Homo sapiens: one gene and its partners. The protein of the gene in region 1 interacts with the protein of each later gene in a biochemical or structural test. Each region holds a gene or a part of one and is shown in the gene's direction. Other genes may lie near its edges.

Region 1 (4,026 bases):
TTACCCTTCATTTTTTTTTAGTGTTTTAATTGGTAATACAGCATTCATTTTCCTTCTGTTTTTAATGTGACTGTGCTTAGGTTACTTTCCGCACCAGAATCTATCACTGCAACATCAACAGTCAGGGAGTCATCTGTCTGGACATCCTTAAAGACAACTGGAGTCCCGCTTTGACTATTTCAAAGGTTTTGCTGTCTATTTGTTCCCTTTTGACAGACTGCAACCCTGGTAAGCAAATCTTTATTAACATGTACAATAAGACTACAAAAACGAGTGCTTTTTTTTTTTTTTTTTTTTTTTTTTTAGTTAGCTTTAAATGTAGATTGAGAGGTAAATGTTATTCATAGAAAGATCCCCATAAAACAGTTTGTGAGGAAATTACCAATGCCATTTGAAGTAGACTAGGCCAAAAGTTTCTCAATACCTTCATTTAATTTGTTAATGGCATACCACTCTATAATTATTTTGTCACCATCATTAATGGAATCTCTACTTTTAAAAGTATTTAGGTGCACAGACCACTTCTTTTTTTTTTTTTTTTTTTTTTTTGAGACGGAGTCTCGCTCTGTCGCCCAGGCCGGACTGCGGACTGCAGTGGCGCAATCTCGGCTCACTGCAAGCTCCGCTTCCCGGGTTCACGCCATTCTCCTGCCTCAGCCTCCCGAGTAGCTGGGACTACAGGCGCCCGCCACCGCGCCCGGCTAATTTTTTTGTATTTTTAGTAGAGACGGGGTTTCACCTTGTTAGCCAGGATGGTCTCGATCTCTTGACCTCATGATCCACCCGCCTCGGCCTCCCAAAGTGCTGGGATTACAGGCGTGAGCCACCGCGCCCGGCCGACCACTTCTAACAAGAGTAAAGCAATGTGTCTGAAACCAGTGCCTCCTTTTCCTGCTCCTTCCATGCTGCTGTATGCTTTTAGGCAACTACTTTAATAATAGAAGGCTTCTTGTTCTCCCTTCCTTTTTTAATTAATTAGTTATATAAAGTGTAGTAGTAATGGATATTAAAATGATAGCCAATGAGAATTGAACTAGATTATGATTATATAACCTCAGATAAAATCATTTGTGTATAATTCATAACTTTAAAAAATGCCTGCCACATGTGAACTTCAGAAACTTGGGTAGCTGACTTGATAAAGTGATGTTTAGACCTGAAATTTCACACATTTTGTTTCGTTATGTGACCTTTTTTTTTTTTTTAAGTTGACTTACTTCTAAATATTTGATAAGTCACTAAAGACTGTTACTGTTGTTACCTTATGCTCGGCAGAGATACATATGCAATAGATAGTGACAGATGGATATTCATTGTGGTATCCTTTATTAGAGTATTGGAAACAACCTCAATGCCCATTAATAGATGTAACGTTTAAAAAGAATGTGACAACTCTATATGAACTAATAGGGAAATATCTTCAAGATATATTAAGTATAAAAGGCACTGGAAAAAAATACATATACACAACATAATATTCTAAATGCTTGTCAGTGCATGTAAGAACTCTGGGAAGTAATGTTGTAAATGGGTAACAATTGTTTGCCAGGGAAAGAAACTTCTGAGCAGTTGGAGTCAGGAAGGAAGATAGTTTTTTTTTACTGGCTATGGTTTGGTACAATTCAAATATTGTACCATATGTACATATTTTTTTGTTTTTAAACATCAAAATAAAAATTTATATCAGGTTCACTCTCTAGTTCAGAATTCTACTTAAAACAAAATGGCAAGTAAGTTTTCAAGTGTAAATATTGATAGTGATTAGAGTCATATCAGGCACAGAATGAAGGAAGCATTTTATTTGAAATAGCATGGTATTGTAAGACTGGGGTTTTATTTTAAAATTAACCATTTTTGAACTATTCATAAGCAGAAATATAACCACCTAGTATACTTCCATTTTGAATGAAAGGCCAAAATTACAAAATAGTTTTTGTATATTAAAGACATATCTTTTATAAAAGTCAAATCTAACTTTTTATATATAGCTCAAAATTCATTTTTTTTTTTATGAAGGGGACTTTCCTAACTGGAATATTAAAATATACATATGATCATGTTACTTTAAACTTTTTCTTTTGAAAATTTAGCTATTATATATGAAGATACTGCTGAAAAATAAGCATTTCATTTTAATAGAATATTAGAACTATACCTTGAAGAAGATACCACAAAATAGCTTTTAATGTTCTTTCTGCTTTTCCAGCGGATCCTCTGGTTGGAAGCATAGCCACTCAGTATTTGACCAACAGAGCAGAACACGACAGGATAGCCAGACAGTGGACCAAGAGATACGCAACATAATTCACATAATTTGTATGCAGTGTGAAGGAGCAGAAGGCATCTTCTCACTGTGCTGCAAATCTTTATAGCCTTTACAATACGGACTTCTGTGTATATGTTATACTGATTCTACTCTGCTTTTATCCTTTGGAGCCTGGGAGACTCCCCAAAAAGGTAAATGCTATCAAGAGTAGAACTTTGTAGCTGTAGATTAGTTATGTTTAAAACGCCTACTTGCAAGTCTTGCTTCTTTGGGATATCAAAATGTATTTTGTGATGTACTAAGGATACTGGTCCTGAAGTCTACCAAATATTATAGTGCATTTTAGCCTAATTCATTATCTGTATGAAGTTATAAAAGTAGCTGTAGATGGCTAGGAATTATGTCATTTGTATTAAACCCAGATCTATTTCTGAGTATGTGGTTCATGCTGTTGTGAAAAATGTTTTACCTTTTACCTTTGTCAGTTTGTAATGAGAGGATTTCCTTTTACCCTTTGTAGCTCAGAGAGCACCTGATGTATCATCTCAAACACAATAAACATGCTCCTGAAGGCATAGTTTCCTGTCGTAATATTTTAAGTCAGTCTTGTTAGAAAGTGTGTCTGAGATGATTGTTGATGAAGTAAAAATGTGGCTATGAAGATTACTAAAGACTAGCACAAATAAACCCATTCTTAAATTGAAAACATTTAAAATCCTATTAAATGCATAGAGTTTTTTTCCTTTGTTATTGAAAGAATGACCTTAAATAATCAAAAGTGGATTTTGACCCATTGGTCTCAAACACATAAAGTTGTACTTCGGTAATATGATGTTTAAGCCAAAAAGAATATGAAATCCTGGCTCGCTCACTCAGGAATCTGGTAATGTCTTATGGAACATGTTGCTTCCAAATTGATGATTTTTGTTCAGCACTGGGCAATATTGTCAGATGGTAACTGTGATGTGGTAGCTAGTCTGTGATGCACTTTTTACTTCTAATCCTGGTCTTGAATGTTCATGTTGTGTATTACCATTCTTACTATGGCAAGTGGCCAGCAAATACAGCCAGAGGCAGAGATGAACACAGAAATCTTTGTCTGCCTTGAAGGTAGACTAGAACTGTGTTAGTGTACAGATGTGATATTATTTCTCAATTGGTAAAATACCAAATTGTAAGGTTTTTAGAAGGTTAAATTTCTTCTTTCTAGTTGTAATTCTGAAGTGTTAGATTTCTTGAAAGTTAGAATTTCTTTGCAATATTTAGATTTGCTAAACAGAGTATAATTGTGTGTGGTGGTGGTGTTTTGTTTTGTTTTGTTTCCCTGTGACTAAGGTAATCATCTCTGGTCATGTAACCAAGGTTGTGGTATATGGGGCAGGTGTCTTCTCCAGTCCTCAATATGGAAATGAAGTATCATCTTAAAAATGTATAGAGTGAAAATATTAACATAAAAAATGCTTCCGGATAAAGTAAAACGTGTAGTTGTGTGTGTCACTAGAATAGCAGACTCCTGTTTGTCAGTAGAAGTCTTATATCAGAGTAAAATTAAAATTACACTTACATATCTGTTTTTCACTTAAACTCCCCACCCCCAACATTATTACAGAGGAGCACTATACAAAGGTACTATTTTGAAGAATTCAGACTTTACCTCTGTGAAAACCTAACTAATAATTTATAATGGAGTCCAAGTGAATGTGATGCAAGTGGAGACCGTTTAAGTTGTAAGGTTTTTTATCAACCGTAGTTTTTCCTCC
Region 2 (3,852 bases), on another chromosome or scaffold:
GGAGGCCGAGGCGGGTGGATCACGAGGTCAGGAGATCGAGACCATCCTGGCTAACACAGTGAAACCCCGTCTCTACTAAAAATACAAAAAATTAGCCGGGTGTGGTGGCGGTGGCGGGCGCCTGTAATCCCAGCTAGTCGGGAGGCTGAGGCAGGAGAATGGCATGAACCGGGGAGGCAGAGCTTGCAGTGAGCTGAGATGGCACCACTGTGTTCCAGCCTGGGCTACAGAGCAAAACTCCATGTCAAGAAAAAAAAAAAAAGAAATACAAAGACCAAAATGCCAAAATGTGAGATTTTCACACAATAACCAGCTCTTATTTTCTTAGATTTTAAAAATTAACTTAAATGTTTGAGGGTTTTTTTTTTTATAGTGACTGAATCTGAAGATTTGGTAGTTTTGTATTTTTTCTTTTTTTTTTTTTTTTTTTTTTTTTTTTTGAGATGGAGTCTTGCTCTGTCATCCAGGCTGGAGTGCAGTGGCGCGATCTCGGCTCATGGCAACCTCCGCCTCTTGGGTTCAAGCAATTCTCCTGCCTCAGCCTCCTGAGTAGCTGGGACTACAGGCATGCACCACCACACCCAGCTAATTTTTGTATTTTTTTTAGTAGAGGCGGGGTTTCACCATGTTGGCCAGGATGATCTCAGTCTCTTGACCTCATGATCTGCCCACCTTGGCTTCCCAAAGTGCTGGGATTACAGGCGCGAGCCACCGTGCCCAGCTGTATTTTCTCTTTTTAAAAATCTGTATCTGTTGCTTATGGGGACTAGTATAAGACCTAGGACTTTGGACAATGATTTATTTTAGGGACAAGGCATGAAATGAGGATCCTTAGCCTCTTAATATCTCAGGGAGATAGATTTCATCAGTAAGCTTGATGAAGGTAGGGTAAGATAAAGATAAATTCCAGAAGTTCTCTTTTCTCTCCGTTCTCTTTCACACAGCCACAGTTCCGACCATTTTGTCTCATAGTACAAGTCCAAATACTATAGCTTACCGAGTTATTTTGAACATAACTCCAACTTACCTTCTAAAAAGTTATTATTGTAGTAAAAACACATAACATGAACTCTACCCTACTAACAAGTTTTTAAGTGTGTAGTATAGTATAGTTGACACTTGAACAATGAAGGAGTTAGGAGTGCCAACTCCCCTACCACCCTACCTCTTGTGCAGTCGAAAATCCACATATGACTTTTGACTCTCCCAAAGCTTAAATGCTAATAGCCTTACTATTGACTGGAAATTTTACTGATAATGTAAATAATCAATTAACACACATTTTTAATATTATATGTATTATATACTGTATATATATATATACACAGTATTCTTAGAATAAAGTAAGCTAGAGAAAATAAAATGTTAAGAAAATCATGTAAGAAAGAGAAAATATATTTATTGTTCATTAGATGGAACTGGATTATCATAAAGGTCTTCATCTTTGTTGTCTTCATGTTGAGTAGGCTGAGGAGGAGGAAGGGGAGGAGTTGGTTTTGTTGTCTTAGGGGTGGCAGAATCAAAAGAGGTGGAGGCAGAAGGGTAGGGAAAGAGAGGCAGGCACACACAGTGTAACTATGGAAATATGTAACTACTATGTGACTTTTTTTGCTTTCTCATTTCTGGAAAAATGTTTCTATACAATACTGATCCTCCTGTCATTTTCTTTAGTTTCTTTTTGGTGCCCCTGTTGTAGAAGGGTCCATGTCATTAAAGAAATCAATGCAATCTTGAATCGTCGGAACCCTTCTGCCAGATTGTCTGATGTCAGTAACAACGATAGCATCTTCAATGGTATAATCTTCCAGACTTTAATGATGTTCTCTTTCTTGGGGTTCTCTTCCATAGCATTGACAATCCTTTCTATAGAGTACCTTGTGTAATGAGCCTTAAAGGTCCTTTATGATGCCCTGATCTAGAAGCTGAATTTGAGATGTTGTGTTTTGAAGCAAGTAAACCACTTCAGCACCTTCATTGTTGAACTTTGGGGTTCTGGGTGGCCAGGTGTATTGTCCAATAGCAAAAGAACTTTAAAAGTTCTTGCTGGCAAGGTACTTCCTGACCTCAGAATCAAAGCATCAATGGAACCAATCCAGAAAAAGGGTTCTTGTCCAGGCCTGCTTGTTATGTAGCCGGAGGACTGGCCGCTGGTGTTTATCTTTTCCCTCCAATGCTCAGGGGTTAGCAGCTTTATATGTAAGGGCAGTCCTGATCATAAACCTGAAAGCATTTGCAGAAAACAGTAGAGTTAACTATCCATTTCTGCCTTAAATCCTGGTGCTTGCTTCTCTTCCTTACTAATAAATGTCCTTTGTGGCAATTTTTTTCAAAATAGAGCACTTTCTTCTACATTAAAAACCTATTCAGGTAGATATCCTTTCTCTTCAGTGATTTTCCTTATGGCGTCTAGAAACTCATTGCTGCCTCTTGATCGGCAGAAGCTGCTTCTCATGTTGTGTCTGACTTTTTTTTAAGACAAACCTCTTTCTAAAGTTATCAAACTATCCTTTGCTGGCATTAAATTCTACAGCTTTACTGCTTGGGTGATGGGTGCACCAAAATCGCACAAATCACCACTAAAGAACTTAAGTAACCAAACACCACCTGTGTACCCCAGTAACCTATGGAAAAAAAAGAATTCTACAGCTTTATATCCTTTACCTTCTTTTTGCTTTAAGTGGTCTTATAATGACTTCGCTTTTTCTCAAATCATGTTAGAGTCTATGACTTTCTTTCAGCAATCCTGCACCCATATCAGTGCTGCATTTTCAATATAAGATAAAAAAATCTTTCACAAAAAGTGTAAGGTTTTCATACTTGCTGGTGTAGTTACAATGATGGCTTTTCTTTTTTTTTTTTACAATGGTCCTTCCACTGGATTCATTTTATCTTGAAATGTCAGGCAACCATAGCTGCAGACCTCAGTCTACAGTACATAATCAAGCAATTCAACTTTTTATTGTAATGTCATGACTTTTCTCAGCTTCTTGGGAGCACTTGCAACATTACTGGTGGCACTTTGTATGGGTCCCATGATGTCATTCAAGGTTTACAGTATTGCACATTAAACATGATGAAAAAATATGCAAGAATCTCAAGACATCACTTTTTCCTGCAATATTCAATTTACTGGAGAGAGGAACTGCTCAGGCAAAGATGAATAGAGTCACATGTGCTTTAACCAGATACATCACTTAAGCTCACCACAATAGCAACTGGAAGTAGCTACAAAATTATTACAGTAGTGCAGTATGTACTACAGTGACTTTTATGCACTTATGACTGAATACTGCATCTTTACATCTGTTTACATTCCTCTTAACTGCAAATGGCGACATCTATGGTCTGTAAGTGTACGCATAGTTTTGATAAATTTTAACTTTTTATAATTTGTGTATATTTTATGGTAGTAAATGATAAAATAGACTAATATGTACATAGATTTCATGCATTCATGACATTTTCTTAATTTTTGGGTATTTCTAGGCTACAAAGTTCATCCGTGAGTTTTTTTCAAGTTGTCACAAATGTCCAAAAAAATTTTCAGTATATTTATTGAAAAAAATCTGCATATAAATGGACCTGTGTGTTTGAAACCCATGTTGTTCACGGGACAACTATATTTTTAACTCTGTGTACATTGTCATATAGCAGATCTGTGTAGCAAATATTTCTTCAAGATCTTGTTTCTAATTCTTTTGGAGAAATAACCCAAAATGGAATTGCTGGATTATGTGGTAATTCTATTTTTTAATTTTTGAGGAAGCTTCATACTGTTTTCCATGGCAGCTGCACCATTCTACATTTCCAACAGTGCACAAAAGTTCCAATTTCTCCACATTGTTGCCAATA
Region 3 (3,852 bases), on another chromosome or scaffold:
TGGATGGGTGTTTGTTAATTAAAAAGTCCAGGCCGGAAAGAGGTGCTCTGGAAGCTGAGAGTTGTCCCTGGAGTATCCCAGGTTGCCAGGGCACTGCAGCTAAATCCTGATGGAGGAGTAGGAGCTCACCCTGGTGGGGAAGGATGGACATTCAGGCAGAGAGCAAAATCCCAAAGATCATGGCGGAGCAGGCGTCGTCTTGAGAATTGGAAGCAGGTGGGTGTGGTAGGAGTGAGCTCAGACTTTGGCTGGAGACAGAGTTTTACTCCAGTGTCTCACAGGGCATGGCAGACAGACAGCAGCGGGTGTTTGTCAAATAAATGAGTCAGCTCTTCTCCAAACTCCCTCCTCCCAGCTACCTCTTCACCTTTCCTGGTATAGTCCAGGGGTTCATTTTCGACCCCCACAGAGTCTGATACACAGTAGGTGCTATGTGTTTGTGAAAGAGGCTGACCCAGCAAAGCCTGGATGTGTTTGCCTTGAGGACTGCCTGAGTCCTCCACACCAGCCCTCCATTTTTTCCCCTTCACCCCAATGCTGGGCCTGAGCCTCCATCTCTCCACAGGTGGTGGTGCTCACCAACACCCCCCTGGAGGACCAGCTGCGAGTGGGTGAGTTCTGTCACAACCGTGGCATCAAGCTGGTGGTGGCAGACACGCGGGGCCTGTTTGGGTGAGTGGCAGCCCACCTCCCTCCCTGTCCCCTTTTCCCCCAACTCCTACCAAGCCCAGGCCAAGACTCTAGGCTCTCCCTGCCCTCATCCCTTCTCAGCTACCCAGGTTTTGGGTTCTGTGTTTTCATCTCTCCCCATGTGGCACAAGTACCATCTTACATCCCAGCAGTGATAGGCTGAGTTTGCTCAGCAAGTTTTCACTACATCTTGAGGGACCCGTGGGACCTGTATGTGCATGGGACACAGGCACCAGCCCTATTGCTTCCCTCTACAGGCAGCTCTTCTGTGACTTTGGAGAGGAAATGATCCTCACAGATTCCAATGGGGAGCAGCCACTCAGTGCTATGGTTTCTATGGTTACCAAGGTAAGGAGACCAGCCCTAGGGTTCCTGGCAGGCAGGTGGGCTGCAGTAGTCCTTCCTGTCTGCTCTTGGTACCCTGGGCCTGTTTCTGAGACTCACTCTTCCTTTAACCAGGACAACCCCGGTGTGGTTACCTGCCTGGATGAGGCCCGACACGGGTTTGAGAGCGGGGACTTTGTCTCCTTTTCAGAAGTACAGGGCATGGTTGAACTCAACGGAAATCAGCCCATGGAGATCAAAGTCCTGGGTGAGCTGCGACCATGGGGGAAGCAGAGGGGAACTAGAAGATATGTTCCTGGGTTCTGGCCGGGGAGTTGAAGGGAGAAGACATGGCCCTTGGTTCAGAGTTGGGAAGACACATCCTGGTGTTTGAGATGAACTACAGACAATCCTGTGGGGTCCAATAAGAGCTGGTGGGCATGGGGGAGAGGTACTGTGTTTGAGCTATTCCTGGGAGAATGTGTCCCTGGTATCTGAGCTGAGTGGGGAAAAAGTCTCTGGTGTTTGAACAGGGCAGATCAGCGGATCTACTTGTGTGTGAGCTGATTTGGATGGGAAGCAGAGAAGGTCTTCCCGTGTAGACTTGGAGCCAGGGACACAGGGTCTCACGGGGTCTGAGCTGAGTCTGGGGCACAGGAGAGATGGTTTCTGATGTCCAAGTGGAGCCTGGAGCTGAGGGAAGACAGCTTCTGATGTCTGAGCTGAGTCGGGGCAGGAGGTTCCTTATCTTGCAGGGGTTGTGGATTTTAGGGAGAATGGGTAGACTGACAGCTCTCTTCCTGCCCTCTGTAGGTCCTTATACCTTTAGCATCTGTGACACCTCCAACTTCTCCGACTACATCCGTGGAGGCATCGTCAGTCAGGTCAAAGTACCTAAGAAGATTAGCTTTGTGAGTGTGTCGATGGGATCAGTGGGCTGTGGGGGGTGGTTCTAGGCATTCCCTAGTTCTCCATTCCTCTCTTCTGGTTCTGATGACCTCTCCCCCCGCCACAGAAATCCTTGGTGGCCTCACTGGCAGAACCTGACTTTGTGGTGACGGACTTCGCCAAGTTTTCTCGCCCTGCCCAGCTGCACATTGGCTTCCAGGCCCTGCACCAGTTCTGTGCTCAGCATGGCCGGCCACCTCGGCCCCGCAATGAGGTGGGTGAGTGGGCGAGCCAGCCAGCGCAGACATGCCTGGCACTGCAGGCTCACCATGCCTCTCTGCGTGTCCACACTCCCTGCCCTCACTGTGGCCTGACATATCCTCTCTTGGTTCTTTCTGGCCCACCAGGAGGATGCAGCAGAACTGGTAGCCTTAGCACAGGCTGTGAATGCTCGAGCCCTGCCAGCAGTGCAGCAAAATAACCTGGACGAGGACCTCATCCGGAAGCTGGCATATGTGGCTGCTGGGGATCTGGCACCCATAAACGCCTTCATTGGGGGCCTGGCTGCCCAGGAAGTCATGAAGGTCAGCACGGGTGGGGAGAGGCAGGATTGGGGTGGGCCAGGTTCCTCCATGACTCTGTCACTTGCTCTCTGTCTGTGTCAGGCCCCTGTTAACCACTGACCACCCCCTCTCTCCCTTCCCCTCTCCAGGCCTGCTCCGGGAAGTTCATGCCCATCATGCAGTGGCTATACTTTGATGCCCTTGAGTGTCTCCCTGAGGACAAAGAGGTCCTCACAGAGGACAAGTGCCTCCAGGTATGTGGGTGGGACCTGTGGGGAGGGCATCATTGGGGACATTTCTGGGGAGGCCTCTCTAACCCTCCTCCCTTTGCATTCCTTAGCGCCAGAACCGTTATGACGGGCAAGTGGCTGTGTTTGGCTCAGACCTGCAAGAGAAGCTGGGCAAGCAGAAGTATTTCCTGGTAAGTGGTCCCCTTGGATGTCTGCTCCCCTCATCTTGGCCTCTGGCCATCACCCCTGGGGCTTCCTTCGGCATCTCAATGCAACCGGTGGCGCATTCTCTTTGCCATTCTCCTTATCTTGAAGGGAAGCCCAGTGCATCCCTCGTTTCCCCTTCTGGTGCCTCCTTCCTCACATGACTGCGTGTCATTTCTTAGAGTCCTGCAACCTGAAGATGTGGTGTTAGCCCCTCTCCCCGTCTCTCAGGGGAGTGAGGGGTGATGGGTAGCTTCACACTAACCTGCATCACCCTGACCAGCCTCTGCCTGTCTTCTTGGTTGCTTCTTAGGTGGGTGCGGGGGCCATTGGCTGTGAGCTGCTCAAGAACTTTGCCATGATTGGGCTGGGCTGCGGGGAGGGTGGAGAAATCATCGTTACAGACATGGACACCATTGAGAAGTCAAATCTGAATCGACAGTTTCTTTTCCGGCCCTGGGATGTCACGGTGAGTAGGGTAGGAGGTTGGGGCTTTGTCGTCTCACTTTCCTCCTTTTTCTTTTTTTTTTTTTTTTTGAGACGGAGTTTCGCTCTTGTTGCCCAGGCTGTAGTGCAGTGGCGTGATCTCTGGCCCACCACAACCTCTGCCTCCTGGGTTCAAGCGATTCTCCTGCCTCAGCCTCCTGAGTAGCTGGGACTACAGGCATGCGCCACCACGCCCGGCTGATTTTGCATTTTAAGTAGAGACAGGGTTTCTCCATGTTGGTCAGGCTGGTCTCGAATTCCCGACCTCAGGTGATCTGCCTGCTTCAGCCTCCCAAAGTGTTGGTATTACAGGCGTGAGCCACCACACCTCACCCCTCCTTTTTCTTGTTCCCATTCTTTCTGTCAGAGATCTTTCTGCCTCTGCCAGAAGCCCTTCTTTTTGGCCTTTCTTTCCCTCAGCTTCTGTTTTTTTTTTTTTTTTTTTTTTTTTTTTGCCTTAACCTCTT
Region 4 (3,852 bases), on another chromosome or scaffold:
TGTAAGAAATTGGTAAGAGTAACATTTGGCTGTTTGTACCTTGAGAGGGTTTTTGAATTGCTTTTGCTGTAGCATAGATGGAAGACATTAAGTTGTAATGTTGTATACCAAAGTTTACCCCAAACCGTAGAGCTCTCTTATTTGAATGTTTTTCTGGAATTAAATGGATTCAGAAATAAAGATTGTCATACCCTTCAATCTTTTGTGCTCAAATGGAACATTTATTGCTAAAAAAGGAAGAAGGCTATGAAGAACACTTTGTTCTTCTAGGAAACTGGATGATCTTCACTGAGGAAAGGCTCACATTTTATCATCTGCTGGAATATGGAGAATTTGGTTTCTGGGATTTCGTGTAATTGTTTTCTGTTATATACAATTTTTATATAGTTGTCACTAGTTTGCACATAATTATTTCCTATTTGACATATTAACATGTGTCACATGGACCATATACTTGCATGATACATTCATTTCCTTAATTATTCCAGTTGTATTTGCATTCTAGTTTTCCACTTACTTAGGATCTGACTTTCCATTAGACCTTCAGTTCCTCAGAGGCAGAGACCATGATTGTATTCTTTATGATGTCCCTGGCATTGTTGGTATCTGGGGTCATTGCAGAAGAAGAATTAATGTATGCTATTAAAGTCAGCTCTCTGTATCCATGGATTCCACATCTGTGGATTCAACCAGCCTCAAATTGCAAATATTAAAAATTGCATTTGTACTGAACATGTAGAGTATTTTTTCTTGTCATTATTCCCCAAGCAATAAACGTTAACAACTATTTACCAAGCATTTACATTGTATTAGGTATTATAAGTAATCTGGAGATCATTTAAAGTATATGGGAGGATGTGTGTAGGTTATGTGCAAATACTATGCCATTTTCTATCAGGGACTTGAGCATCTGTGGATTTTAGTATCTGCAGGAGATCCTGGAACCGGTCCCCCACAGATACTGAGGGACAACTGGATTTTGTTCACATTAGCATACAATAGTACTTTTTTCCAAGGCCCTTTAGATTTTATCACTAGCTCATTAACTATAAATAAATTTTTTTCGTAAGACAGCTTAGCAACTTAAACTGATAAATAAAATCATCACCCATTCAGTTTACAAAAATAGAGAAACCTCTATTAGGAATTTTCAGTGTATGTGTAAATGCTTTAATTCAAAGTTTTTGCAATTAAAAATATCATTTTGCATATTAGAAGTTGCTGTTTTGAGTAGTTTAAAGCTTGCTGTAGCTTGTATGCTGAAGAATGTTTAGGCTACTTAAAATGATTGTTCCAACATTCAGAGCCCTTCCAGTTTCCTCTGGCTATCGGCTTCCATAATAAAGAATGACACAAACTCATTTCATGCTTCTAAAATGACACCAGAAGCGTCAGAATCTTGGTGCTCGCCAATGCTGAAGGATTGCTTACTCTTTTCCCACTCTTTTCCTTAGCTCTAAGGTCAGTAGAAGCCAGATCTAAAGGTAGAATACCCTATTGGTGGCATTTAAAAGCCAGTACATAACAGCAATTTAAACTAGCCCAAACAAATACATTCTGGTTAGTTGAGGTCTGTGTGGAAGCCATGTGCTTACAGATCAACCCTAAATTTCCACTGTTGTTTAATATTGAGAACATTATTTCATCAAAACCAGTTTTCCTGTACCATTTCTCTCCATTTCCTGTTGTTTTTAAAATCTCCATAAGCATGTTGAAATATATTTTTGCTAGATCAGTAAAATAAACTAAAATAAAATTAGCCTTTCCTTAATATTTGTTCCTTGGGGAAAGTAAAATAAATGTGCTCTTAGGGGAATTAAAAGATTAGTTGCTACATTACTCCTTCAGCCTTCCAGTTCTAAATGTAGATTTCTAAAATTGGAAGGCCTGTGTTTGTCCTGACTGAATTTGCTTTCAGAGTATAAAGTAAAATAACCTTTTCTTCCTCATGCCACAAGTTCTCTGAGGGACAGTGCCAATAGCTAGGATAAGCCATCCCAGGGAATGGGATATTGATCTGTAGGACTAATGGACGTAGGATAAGTGCAGTGGGGATACAGGATGTATTTTCAAGTGCCAGAGAAAATACGAAGAGCCAAGTGGGTTGGCATATTATCTTTAAGGACGTTACACTCTTTCTACCTCTGCTTGCATTTTTGCGTTCCTCTTTTCTTTCCTTGCACCCTTGTTTTATCTTTATACAGTTAAAAAAAAAAGTCATTGATTCACCTAATAATAACTCATAAAGAGTGGTAATTCAGGCTGCAACACATTAATATTGTTTTTCAGAAAGTATTTCCTAAATAAAACATGGAAGGCTTGCAAAAAAATTACTATCTTAGTGAGGTACTTCAGAAGTAACTATTTAAAGATGACTGACATTCTAATTACAGCTCATCATTTTTATAATTATCAAGATGACAAGCCCTGGAAGGACCTGTCATCTTAGCAATTTGTTTGGTCTGGTTTAAATTGCTGTATGCACTGGAAAATTCTAAGAAGGCTATATTTCTTTTATAAATGCTCCGTTGAGAATTTCCCTAATCTGAACTTATATTCTCAAGACATGATTAAAACAGTATGATTTTACTTTTCCAAACACATTTTTTAGGACTGAAACCTTTCTATATTTAATTTTAGAAATGTATCTTTGAGTTTATTAATGCAGTCTTGATAAAAGCCCACAGGATGATTATTTGATTTTAAAAAATTGGGGTAAAAGGTATATAGTGTAAAATTTACCATTTTAATGATTTTTAATTACACATTTTAGTCACATTATGTACATTCACATTGTTGTACAATCATCACCACCATCAATCTCTAGACTACTTAAAAAAAATCATCTCAACTTTTTTTTTTTTTTTTTTTTTTTTTTTTTGCGACGCCTGTCGCCCAGGCTGGAGTGCAGTGGTGCAATCTTGGCTCACTGCAAGCTCCGCCTCCCAGGTTCATGCCATTCTCCTTCCTCAGCCTCCCGAGTAGCTGGGACTACTGGTGCCCGCCACCACACCCGGCTAATTTTTTCGTATTTTTAGTAGAGACGAGGTTTCACCGTGTTAGCCAGGATGGTCTCGATCTCTGACCTTGTGATCTGCTCGTCTTGGCCTCCCAGAATGCTGGGATTACAGGCGTGAGCCACCACACCTGACCCAATTTCAACTTTTATTTTAGATTCAGGGAGTACATATGCAGGTTTGTTACATGGGTATAGCGTGTGATGCTGAGCTTTGGAGTACGAATAATTCCGTCACCCAGGTAGTGAGCATAGTATCCAATAGGTAGTTTTTTAGCCTGTGTACCCCTCCCTCCCTGCCCCTGTAGTAGTCTCCAGTGTCTGTTGTTCCTGTCTTTATATCCACGTGTACCCTATATTTAGTTCCCATTTCTAAGTGACAACATGTGGTATTTGGTTTTCTGTTCCTGTGTTAATTCACATAGGATAATGGCCTGTAGCTGCATCCATGATTTTGTTCTTCTTTATGGCCATGTAGTATTCCATGGTGTATATATACCACATTTTCTTTTTCCAATCTACTGTCAACGGGCACCTAGGTTGATTCCATGTCTTTGCTATTGTGAATAGTGCTGTGATGAACATACAGGTGCATTTTTTTTTTTTTTGGTAGAACAATTTATTTTCCTTTGGATGTATACCCAGTCTTGGGATTCCTGGGTTGAATGGTAGTTCTGTTTTAAGTTCTTTGAGAAATCTCCAAACTGCTTTCCACAGTGGCTGAACTAATTTACATTCCCACTAACAGTGTATAGTGTTGCCTCTGCTGTACAGCCTCGCCAATATCTTTTGTTTTTGACTTTTTGATAATGGCCATTCTGACTGGTGTGAGATAG

Evidence for each region. The genes of interacting proteins can lie anywhere in the genome.
Region 2: of the proteins of UBE2E3 (region 1) and UBA6, one has a biochemical effect on the other in vitro, tested with the Homo sapiens proteins (one study listed by BioGRID).
Region 3: of the proteins of UBE2E3 (region 1) and UBA1, one has a biochemical effect on the other in vitro, tested with the Homo sapiens proteins (3 studies listed by BioGRID, with this or other methods).
Region 4: the proteins of UBE2E3 (region 1) and RCBTB1 form a complex in vitro, tested with the Homo sapiens proteins (one study listed by BioGRID).

What each region holds. Positions count from the first base shown.
Region 1 is NC_000002.12:181,060,585-181,064,610, forward strand, and holds the end of UBE2E3 (ubiquitin-conjugating enzyme E2 E3), read left to right. Parts: intron 1-80; coding exon 81-228; intron 229-2,206; coding exon 2,207-2,304; 3' UTR 2,305-2,841; downstream 2,842-4,026. UniProt on the Homo sapiens protein: Accepts ubiquitin from the E1 complex and catalyzes its covalent attachment to other proteins. In vitro catalyzes 'Lys-11'- and 'Lys-48'-, as well as 'Lys-63'-linked polyubiquitination.
Region 2 is NC_000004.12:67,690,804-67,694,655, reverse strand, and holds part of UBA6 (ubiquitin-like modifier-activating enzyme 6), read left to right. Parts: intron 1-3,852. UniProt on the Homo sapiens protein: Activates ubiquitin by first adenylating its C-terminal glycine residue with ATP, and thereafter linking this residue to the side chain of a cysteine residue in E1, yielding a ubiquitin-E1 thioester and free AMP.
Region 3 is NC_000023.11:47,200,329-47,204,180, forward strand, and holds part of UBA1 (ubiquitin-like modifier-activating enzyme 1), read left to right. Parts: intron 1-565; coding exon 566-672; intron 673-947; coding exon 948-1,038; intron 1,039-1,149; coding exon 1,150-1,282; intron 1,283-1,827; coding exon 1,828-1,925; intron 1,926-2,029; coding exon 2,030-2,176; intron 2,177-2,309; coding exon 2,310-2,486; intron 2,487-2,614; coding exon 2,615-2,719; intron 2,720-2,805; coding exon 2,806-2,886; intron 2,887-3,212; coding exon 3,213-3,368; intron 3,369-3,852. UniProt on the Homo sapiens protein: Catalyzes the first step in ubiquitin conjugation to mark cellular proteins for degradation through the ubiquitin-proteasome system.
Region 4 is NC_000013.11:49,575,207-49,579,058, reverse strand, and holds part of RCBTB1 (RCC1 and BTB domain-containing protein 1), read left to right. Parts: intron 1-3,852. UniProt on the Homo sapiens protein: May be involved in cell cycle regulation by chromatin remodeling.